2 separate regions of the Homo sapiens genome follow, and region 2 is linked to region 1. The links come from fine-mapping of genetic effects on gene expression. A gene starts in region 1. The other region holds a variant in brackets. All regions are shown on one strand. Distances are between the middles of the regions.

Evidence for each region. PIP is the estimated chance that this variant, and not a neighbour inherited with it, causes the effect. A credible set is the group of variants that fine-mapping cannot tell apart.
Region 2: its variant is the best candidate, but not a certain one, in a credible set for the expression of ADAM9 in whole blood (INTERVAL, PIP 0.52).

Annotation. Positions count from the first base shown.
Region 1 is chr8:38,994,555-38,999,939 of GRCh38, reverse strand. ADAM9 (ADAM metallopeptidase domain 9) reads right to left here and starts at 2,967. Exons shown (of 22, transcript NM_003816.3): 1 at 2,780-2,967. The coding sequence starts at 2,876. TM2D2 (TM2 domain containing 2) reads left to right here and starts at 3,431. Exons shown (of 4, transcript NM_078473.3): 1 at 3,431-3,727; 2 at 4,535-4,622. The coding sequence starts at 3,501. RefSeq lists a silencer at 2,331-2,760 and enhancers at 2,771-3,080, 3,091-3,140, 3,201-3,300, 3,461-3,650, 3,259-3,780 and 1 more.
Region 2 is chr8:39,235,031-39,240,415 of GRCh38, reverse strand. The region is part of intron 16 of ADAM32 (ADAM metallopeptidase domain 32); the gene reads right to left. Among named protein-coding and RNA genes, the nearest start is that of ADAM32, 130 kb to the right of the region's middle. The variant TC/C (reference allele first, on the strand shown) is at 2,094.

The DNA.
Region 1 (5,385 bases):
AAGCCTCCAGTATATGTTACATACCAAAAAGGAAAAAGAAATATGAGGCTATGTCATATGTTTGAGCTTGCGGATATTCCCAAGAAAAAGCTTCCAGTTACTTAGAGCTTGCATCTTTTGGGGGATTCCATAATAAATTCTATTATAAACCCAGATTTTTTACAAAGAGCAAATATAAATTTGGTAAGTTAAAGCTTCAAGTGCTTTTTGAAAACTGTCTTGGAAACCAGGAACTAGGTTTGTACATATTTTAATTATATATGCTTTCTTTTTTACTTAAAAGGTTGAAAACCAAATCATTCTTAAATGTAAAAGGCTACATTCTCCTATCGGCACAAACACAAACATATCAAATTCAAATATTTTGCTGGCATCTGAAAACGAGATTAGTATGGACCTAAGTTCTTACTACACAAATGATTTTACAGTGACTCACCATGAGTAAGCTTTCAAAGTCATTTTCTTTAGAATGCCAGTCTTTGTTTAAAAAAAAATTCTAAATCTGTTCCTCATAATTACTACCTTAGAAAATCAGAAGAGGTTTCATACCTGATTCCGCTTATTTTTTACAATGACACAGTTACCTTTGTCAGTTTAAAAAAAAAAAAAAAGTTTACTGAAAGTTAGCTGTTTGGAAATTATACTGCATTTCCTCATTGAGACAATGTTATAAAAGGTAGTAAAAATCCTATAAAACCTAATTAACTCCTAATGTAACTGACGTGTGCCTGGTACCTCAAATTCCTCTTTCGATCCTGGAAAATGTTTCAGTGCACGTTTTAAACACCTTATACTGCAAAAATGTGGTCAGCTGATTTTGTATGAACGTTCCCCGAGAGAAACAAGAGTTGACTCACTGCACACTATTACAAAAGCCTCTTAACCGGTGTCCCAGCCTCTAGTCTCTCCCTCCTAGATTCTATCCTCCACCGTGTTGCCCGTTTTCTTAACAGAAAATGAGATTAGGTCGCACCCCTACTTAAAACCTCCACTGCCCAAAGAACTTCCTACGGGGTGAAGTCCAAACCCCTTAGTTCAGCATAGAAGACTCTTCCCAACTGGTAACAACCTACCTTAGTTTGATCTTCCATCCCTCCCTTTTATAGTCTGCATGAAGACATATTGACATTTTTATCATTTCCTAAAAAGTCATGTTCTTTCATACGCCCCCCGCCCCACCATACTCTTGCAAAAACTTTCCTCTGCTTAGAATGTATCTACTATTCTACTTGAAAAATCACCGATGTAGCCCAGTTCAAATATTATTTTCTCTAAAAATCTTCCCCAACATCTCTCAGATGCGCTTAGCATATTTGGTCACCTTCTGCCCCTCTACAATCAACTGTGTGGTGTTTATAGGAGTTCCATAAACGGTGGCTAAACTTTGAAGGGGCATACACATGCCGAAGTGAGGAGCTGGCCAAAACCACAGTTAAAGACCATCAGGATATTCCACTCACCTAATGCAGGTCGGTAATGACTGACAATTTATATTAACATTTAAAAATACAGTCTTATTTACATTTACAAACACAAAAAAAAATCACAGATTAATAAAACTCCGGATGTATAATCGTCTTCACCTTAAACATCGGTGAGTGTTAACCATCTAGAATACCACCGGAAAAGTAGTTTTAACCAGAAGAAATTTGGCAACTTCCCATTCAAAACATTGTCAGAGTTTCAACATTTCCACACTGGGGCAAATTTACTTAATTTCAAATAAAGCAGCCAAAGATAAGAAAAACAAGTAATTAGTTTCCTGAAGGTCAACAGTCCTGCGTTGAAATCTTCTATCATCACCTTTGAATAACTTTCAATCAATGATTTAGTAAAAACTCCCATTCTCCATCATCCTCTGTCGCTGATAGAGAAAATACAGCCATGCAAACAATTATATCATACAAAATCCAAAATAAACAACTTGTTTCCAGAAAGACGCCAGCGTGCTGACAATCTGCTTCCACTATGTTTGGGCATCTCCAATACAAGTATCTTACATAGTCAAGGGCAGTTTCACAATTCAAAAACGATTTCACACAAATGATTTAATTCCTACAATAATCCTGTGAGTTCAAAAGAGCAGGGATTATCTGTCCGGATTTAACACAGTACGAACCCAATAAAAACACAGATTTTTTAAGAATGGTTTGGCTATAGAAAGGTAGCACATCGTTTACAAAATATTCTTACTACAAAAATGACCCAAGAGAAATGAGCGTCCTCCCACCCACCTTTATTCCACCATTAAATTTAGCTGTGTTGACCCAAGGATACCATGAACGTCAAAATTTCAAATTATAACCTGCAGCAAAAGTTTCATCTCTCAGTCTCTTTCCAAGCGACATTAACTCCACGAGCGAGAGCCAGCTCCCTCCCTGCAGGCGTTTGGAGGACTGAACGCCCGCGGGCGCGCCCAGCCTGCAGGGCTCCGGCCCGCCGAGGTCAGCGCCCGCCCCAGAGCGGGTTTCGGGGCGTCTGGGGGACCCGGGGTCGCGCGAGGCGGCGAGGGATGGGGGGACGCTGGGAACGGCTCCATCGAACAGGACACGGAGGAAGCGGTGCCGGGCAGAGGACCCGGGCCAAGAAGGGCTTGGGGCGCCAAACCCCGCGCCTCGGGTGCGACCCCGGTCCGCACACACCTGGAGCGGCCGCGCCCCCCGACCCCGGGTCCGATCCCCAGGCCGGGCCCCTCCACTCCCAGGCACCACAGGTTCACTCCGAGCGCCCCGTCCCTAGGAAGCAGCCGTCCCAACCGACCCGGGGCGCGGACACCCACCTGGCCGCGCCGCACCGAGGACTGGGCCCACCAGGCCAAGCAACAGCAACCACCGGACACGAAGGGTCCCCGAGGGAAAGCGCGCGCCAGACCCCATCTCGGCCGATTCCGCAGGTTCCTCTCAGCACTCGGTCGCCTCCACCTCCGCCTCTTCCATCATTTTCCAACCCTGCCGGGGCCCCAAGTCTGGCCGGGAAGCGCGCGCGCCCGACGAGCACGCGCGCCCGACGAGCACGCGCGCGGCACTGACGCAACTGAGCCCTCGGTCCGAGCTCGCTCCCGACATCGCCTAGCTGCGCTGACGTAGGGAAAAATCCAGTCCCCGGCGCGAGAATAGGATTTCTAAACCGGCGGTGGCAACCAGCACTAGTCGGCCCGCCAGTCATATCCGCCCCGCCCCGTCGGCTGCCGGGCACGCCCACCTAGGGGGGTCGACGGATCCGATTGGAGAACGCATTCGGCGCAAAAGAAGGAGGAGCATGAGACCCAGAAGAGGAATCGAGAAGCAGAAGCAGAGGGCGGAGTAGCCCCGCCCGTCTGCTCGACCTTTTCTAGTTGGTTGGCGGAGGTGCGCGGAGCGTCGAGCTGCGCGTCCATTGGCTGTTTGGCGGGGCTACGCGGGCGGGGCTACGCGGAAAGGCCTGACCACGCAGTTCTTGGGTCTGTGCTGCTGGCCTGGGGTTGTGGTTGAGGCCGGGTCTCCGCTCCTGTGCCCGGGAAGATGGTGCTAGGTGGTTGCCCGGTTAGTTACTTACTTCTGTGCGGCCAGGCGGCTTTGCTGCTGGGGAATTTACTTCTGCTGCATTGTGTGTCTCGGAGCCACTCGCAAAATGCGACCGCTGAGCCTGAGCTCACATCCGCTGGCGCCGCCCAGCCGGAGGGCCCCGGGGGTGCTGCGAGCTGGGAATATGGCGACCCCCACTCTCCGGTCATCCTCTGCTCTTACCTGTAAGCTACCAGTGGTCGAGGCGGGTGGACGTGGAGGGTGTGCCAGGAATATATGGGTGTTAAGGGAAGGCAGGGTTGGGGGGACGCTGCATTTTTTCAGACCCTGCCTCTCTGAGGTCGTTCCGGAGGCAAATATCATGAACCAGGTTTCTCACAGCCCGTGCAGAGAAAACTCTTGTGTGTCAGTGACAGAGGCTTTGAGATCCCCAAAGAGGAAAACTGGGTAGGAGTAACATCATATAGCCTCTGGAAGAAGGGCGTAAGGTTGTGCTTTCTTTGCCCTGCGCCCTTTAGCCCAAGGAGAGTATTAGTCGGTCGATTCGGTGCCAGTACTGAGTAAGGCATAAATGGAGTAAATGACTTGTCTCTGCCTACAAGGCATCTTTTAAAAAAGCAATCAATATTCTTACCGTTGCAGAATCACGCCATTTTTTAACATCTCTTTTTGATCAAACAAGAAAAGGCATTTGGGAAATGCAAAGAGGACTGAGAATACTTTGGCTTAAATTTTGCCCCCAGAATCTTGTTGTTTGCCTACTGAAGAGATGAAACCATGGCAGAAGTAGAATCCTTATAGAAACAGGACCAGAAACACCTCCCTTCTCCAACAAAAGGTTCATTTTGGTGGCTGTCCGTTTGACCTGCTGTGCTTCAGTTTAATTGGCTTGGAAAGGGGTCAGCAGGGTGAAACCGAACCCCAGAAAACTTGATGAAGAAATGTCTTTTGCCCGTTTTGATTACGTGCATGCAAACAGCGATTTGCAAAGACCGTATGATGATGATCATGATCTTACTGGTGAATTACAGACCTGATGAATTTATAGAATGTGAAGACCCAGTGGATCATGTTGGAAATGCAACTGCATCCCAGGAACTTGGTTATGGTTGTCTCAAGGTGAGTTTTTGTTTTGTCGTAAGAGCAAACCCTTCGATAACGAAATAGGAATGTCTGAATGCTATTACATAAAAGTATAAGAGGTACAAAGTTTTTTGAAGAATTTCCTCAGAAAGACCGTTACTGGAAATTTCCAGTATGGCCAGGGTCAGTGACTGAACAAGATATTTGGTTTCCTTATGAAGGAGCAATCTCTGTGCTAAAACCACCCAGGTGCAAAGACCAACCTGTCTTTGGTTCCTTTGGCCACTGACAGATTTTGAAACTAAAATGTCACCCCTGACTCTCCTTCAAGGCATGAACCTTTCCTGAAAGAGCAAAAGGAAGTCTGTGCACTTTGCAACACTGGTGATGGATTGGGCAGTATCTTTGTTACACATGCATTTGGGGCAGAGCTTTTCTTGCCAATGACATTTCTTTTCTCCAGGCAAACAGGTTCCACCATGTCCGTAGGAGACAGATAGAGTCTACCGGTATATGTCTTTGTAGGACATTAAAGCGTTCCAGCGGAAGCCATTGGTTAACAGTGGCTTCTTGGAATGGAAAAACGCTATTAAGGTTTATTAGTAATATCCCTAAAGCTGAGTGTACAGTTCCTAATCAATCTCTCAAAATAACCAATGAAGTTCATGTATCTCCTCCCCACCATGGACTCGCCATCCTATTATGCCACATAATGCAAGTCAAGATTTGGTCAGATGTTAAGAGAATGATGGGAAGGCATGTTTTGTACTAAATCAGACACAGAGGAATAAACCTGACA
Region 2 (5,385 bases), 240 kb before region 1:
GTATCTCAGAGGATTGGATGGGTTGTGTCACTATTATCATTCAGTTCAAAGAAGTTTTTAGTTTCTATTGATTTCACTGTTTACTAAAAGATCATTCAGGAGCAGACTACTTAATTTCCATGTATTTGGATGGTTTTGAGGGTTTCTTTTGGAGTTATTTCCAATTTTATTCCGCTGTGGTCTGAGAGAGTACTTGACATGATTTCAATTTTCTTAAGTTTATTGAGGCTTATTTTGTGGTCTATCATATGATCAGTCTTGGAATATGTTCCATGTGCTGATGAATAGAAATACATATTCTGCATTTTGGGGCAGAATGTTCTGTAAATACCTGTTAAGTCTATTTGTTCTAGGGTATAATTTAAGTACTGTGTTTCTTTGTTGACCTTCTGTCTTGATGACCTGTCCGGTGCTGTCACGAAGTATTGAAATCCCCACTATTATTGTGTTGCCATCTATCTCATTTCTTACGTCTATCAAGAATTGTTTTATAAATTTGGGAGCTCTAGTGTTAGGTGTATATGTATTTACAATTGTGATTTTTTTCCTATTGGACTAGTCCCTTTATCATTATATAATGCCCCTCTTTGTCTTTTTTAAGTGTTTTTGCTTTAAAATCTGTTTTGTCTAATATAAGAATAGCTACTCCTGCTCACTTTACATGTCCATTTGCATGTAATATCTTTTTCCACCCCTTTACCTTAAGTTTATGTGAATCCTTATGTGTTAGGTGAGTCTTTTAAAGACAGCAGATACCTGTTTGGTGAATTATTATACATTCTGCCATTCTGAATCTTTTAAGTGAAGAATTTAGGCCATTTATTTTCAATGTTAGTATTGAGATGTGAGGTACTATTCTATTTATCATGCTGGTTGTTTCCTGAATATCTTGATTATTTTTTCATTGTGTTGTTGTTTTTAGAGACCCTGTGAAATTTATGCTTTAAAGAGGTTCTATTTTGGTGTATTTCAAGGTTTTGTTTCAAGATTTAGAACTCTTTTTAGCAGTTTTTGTAGTGCTGGTTTGGTAGTAGCAAATTTTCTCAGCTTTTGTTAGTCTGAAAAAGACTTTATCTTTCCCTCATTTATGAAGCTTAGTTTCACTGCACACAAAATTCCTAGCTGATAATTGTTTTGTTTAAAGAGACTAAAGATAGGATCCCCATCCCTTCTAGCTCGTAGAGTTTCTGCTGAGAAATCTGCTGTTAATCTGATAGGTTTTCCTTTATACATTACCTGGTGCTTTTGCCCCCAGCTCTTAAGCTTCTTTCCTTCATCTTTACTTTAAATAACCTGATGACCATGTGCCTAGATGATGATCTTCTTGTGATAAATTTTCCAGGTATTCTTCGAGGTTCTTGTATTTGGAAGTCGAGATCTCTAGCAAGGCCAGGGAAGTTCTCCTTGATTATTCCCTCAAATAAGTTTTCCAAACTTTAGGATTTCTATTCTTCCTCAGGAATACAAATTATTCTTAGTTTGGTTATTTAACATAATCCCAAACTTCATGGAGGCTTTGTTCATTGTTTTATTTTTTATTTTTTTTGTCTGTGTCAGATTGGGTTCATTCCAAAGCCTTGTGTTAAAGCTCTTAAATTCTTCTACTTGTTCAATTCTATTGTTGAAACTTTCCAGTGTATTTTGCATTTCTCTAAGTCTTTTATTTCCATAAGTTATGATTTCTTTTATTTCTGATCTCTATTTCTCTGGAGATTTTTTGTCCATATTCTGTACTTTAAAAAATTTCTTTAGGTAGTTTTTCACCTTTCTCTGGTGCCTCCTTGAGTAGCTTAATAATCAAATTTCTGAATTCTTTTACTGACAGTTCAGAAATTTCTCCTTCGTTTGGATCCACTGCTGGTAAGCTAGTGTGATCTTTTGGGAGTGTTATAGAACCATGTTTTTGTCATATTACCAGAATTGTTTTTCTGGTTCCTTCTCATTTGGGTAGACTATGTTAGAGGAAAGATCTGGGAATCAAGTGCTGCTGTTCAGACTCTTTTGTCCCACAGGGTAATCCCTTGATGTTGTGCTCTATCCCTTCCCTTAGGGATAGGGCTTCCTGAGAGCCAGACCACAGTGATCATTACTGC[TC/C]TTCTGGGTCTAGCCACGCAGTGGAGCTACTGGACTTTCAGTTGGTACTTGGGAATGTTTGCAAAGAATCCTGTGATGTGGTCCATCTTTAGGTCTCTCAGCCATTGATACTAGCACCTGCTCTGGTGGAAGTAGCAGGGGAGTGAAGTAGATTCTGTGAGAGTCCTTGGTTATAGTCTTGTTTAGTGCACTGGTTTCCTTCAAGACTGGTTATGCTAGCAATGAAGTTGTTATGTGGACAGACTCAGGACCTCTGGTTAGCCAGAATGTTGTAGGCAGTGGAATTAGCTGTTGTTTTTTCCTTCCTTGGAGCAGGGTTGTTCTGTTATGAACTGCTGTAATGGCTTGAGTTGGCTGGCCTCCAGCCAAGAGACAGCACTTTCAAGAGAGCATCAGCTGTAGTAGTATAGGGGGAATACAAGCTTGCCCTAAGGTCACCCAGGTAAGTATTCAAGTTTTTCAGGTGATGGGTGGGCCCTAGAGCTCCCATGAGTTACTGTCATTTTTGTCTTCAGCTACCAGGGCAGGTAGAGAAAGACCATCAGATGAGGGCAGAGTTGGGCATGTCTGAGCTCAAACTCTCCTTGGGTAGGGCTTGCTATGGCCGTTGTGGTGGATTGGGGGAGGTGGTTCTCAGGTCAATGGAGTTACCTTCCAAGGGGGATCATGGCTGCCTCTGCTGCTTCATACAGGTCACCAGGGAAGTGGGGGAAAGCCGGCAGTGACAGGTCTCACCCAGCTCCTATGCAGCCAGTAAGGCCAGTGTCACTCCCACCATGCTCCCCAAGCAGCCAACACAGCCCAGTGTATATCCAGGCCTCTGGTGCACAGGGCTGAGATCTTGCTCCAGGCTACAAGCCTCCCCACTGAGAAAGCAAGCAGAGCTCTCAGGCCTTGCTTCTACCTGCCTGCCATGGCTTCTGTGCTCATATTTGCACTTCTTGTTCACCCCACCACATCTGCCCAGGAAAATTCACACTAAGTCAAAATTTTTACAAGGTTGAGCTGGAAGTCTCCTTATCCTTGTGGCCCTTCCCCAATTCCACTGGCTGTCCTCCCCAGGCACTGCTGTCAGATTAAATCAGAAATCGCTTCCCAGGGCTTCCCTGAGAACTGGGAGTGCCTACAAGGCTCTTCCCGCTGCTTCTTCTACTTTTATGGTTTGCTCGGCTCTCTAAATTCATTTCAGCTCTAGGTAAGGTTAAATTATTCTCCTGTGATCTGGATTTTCAGGTTCTCCAGTAAGGATGTGTGTCCAGAGCCAGACTTTCCCCCACTCACATATTGGGCATTTACAGTTTTATGGGTGTTTCACGAAGTTTGTAGTGGCAAGCTGCTTCTTTTGAAGGGTCTGTGAATTCTTTAAGTTTTCCTGTTATGTTCCTGCAGTGGTTCTTGCAGCAAAAGTTCATAATGTGAGTCTCCACACGCTGTCCATCCAAGTGGGAGCTGCAAGTAAGTCCTGCCTCCTATCTGCCATTTTTCTCCCTGTGTCCTCCACAAGTTTTGATAAGTTATATTTTCATTTTCACTTAGTTCAAAATATTTTAATTTTTTTCTTGAGAATTTTTCTTTGACCCATGTGTTATTTAGCCTCAAAGAGTATGGGGATTTTCCAGGTAACCATAATGTAAACTATGAATTTTGGGTGATAATGATGTGTCAATATAAGCTCATCAATTATTACAAATGTACCACGCTGATGTAGGTTATGCACAGTGGTACAGGTTTTGTGGGGGAGTAGGGGATAAAGAGTATATGAATACTTTTTTGTATTTTTCACTCAATTTTTGCTGTGAACCTAAAATGGCACTAAAATGTAAAGTATATTTTTTAAAATAATTTTTTTAATGATTCAGGGCAGAAAAGTGGAGGATATCAATAAAATAAGATTGGCTATTAAATAAATAATTATTATCAAAGAACCACTTTTCATTATAACACCATGAAATCTAACAAGACTATCCCTGAGTACACAGTTCAAAGAATATCTTGTATTAATTGCACATACAAAAGTTTTACATAGTAAAAAATTAACTCCATATAATAATGGCATATATTGTTTTCATAAAATATGAACTATCATTAGAGTCTCATAAGTATTTAATGAAGATAATAGAAATTTTTGTTAAAATGTACCAGAGTTGTCTATCATTATATTATGGAACGTATAAAAAATTCTGACATAATTCTTCTAACTTTAAAGTATAATAATCAGAGGGCTGAAGATATATTCCCAACTCCATTATTTATGGCAATCTCAATTTCCTTAAGTTGCAGTTTTTACACGAGTACAATAATACTTTTTTAAAAAATGTTATTTTAGAAAAAGCAAGTAACATTAGAGCTTGTTTTTAGTTTAAAATGAGATGACATATGTGAAAATCATTTCCTGTTAAACATTAAAGCACAGCATAACCTTCTTCAGATAAATGGCATCATAAACCTCTTCTAAATACAAACAATCTAACCCTTTTAAACTTTTAATATGTTGAGTCTTCTCGCTGGTCCTTGACCATGATGATGTGTCTAACAAGTCTTTTTGGAATATAGTATCTACTGTCTGCCTGGCTCAGTTGAAATTGAGATAGATTCCCCACTGAATAAGGACACTAACTTACAGAAACAATACTAAGAATGTTTCATCATATATAATTTATACTATCATTAAAAACTACCCAGTAAAATTTGTTTTTACACATTATTTCTGAGAAGAATTGTCTGGGTTATTAAAAAGATTATATTCTTATTAAATTACTTATCAAATCATCTCAAAGACTTTATTGGTTGTGTTGCATTTTTTAGGCTTTTTCTTTTCTGCTCCATGACCTAAATATATCCACTGAGCTCCCTGGCCCAAACCTCCATCAAGATGGCACTTATGACTCGAATGCATAAAAATAAATCAATATTAATGAGTCTATATACTTTACCTACAGTAAGCTTTATTTATACTATAAAACCACTAAAAGTGGCTATTGAAATATACATTTCATATCTAAGGATACCAAGGCTTAATAATATTAAATTATTTCTTAAAGATCATCTATCAAGTAAGTGGCAGAGTCAGAATTCAAATCTATGAACATCTATCTTTAAAGCCTACACTTTACACTTTTTATATTTCCCTATGAGCAAAGATCTGGTCAGGAATTAAATAAGATTTTATTTTAATTTCTAAATATTTATTTATTTATTTCATATATCCAAAGATTTATTATTTACAGATCCTGGGCAGGGAGAGCACATTGTACCAGGAGGGCAGTCCTCCATCCCCAGGTCACAGGACAC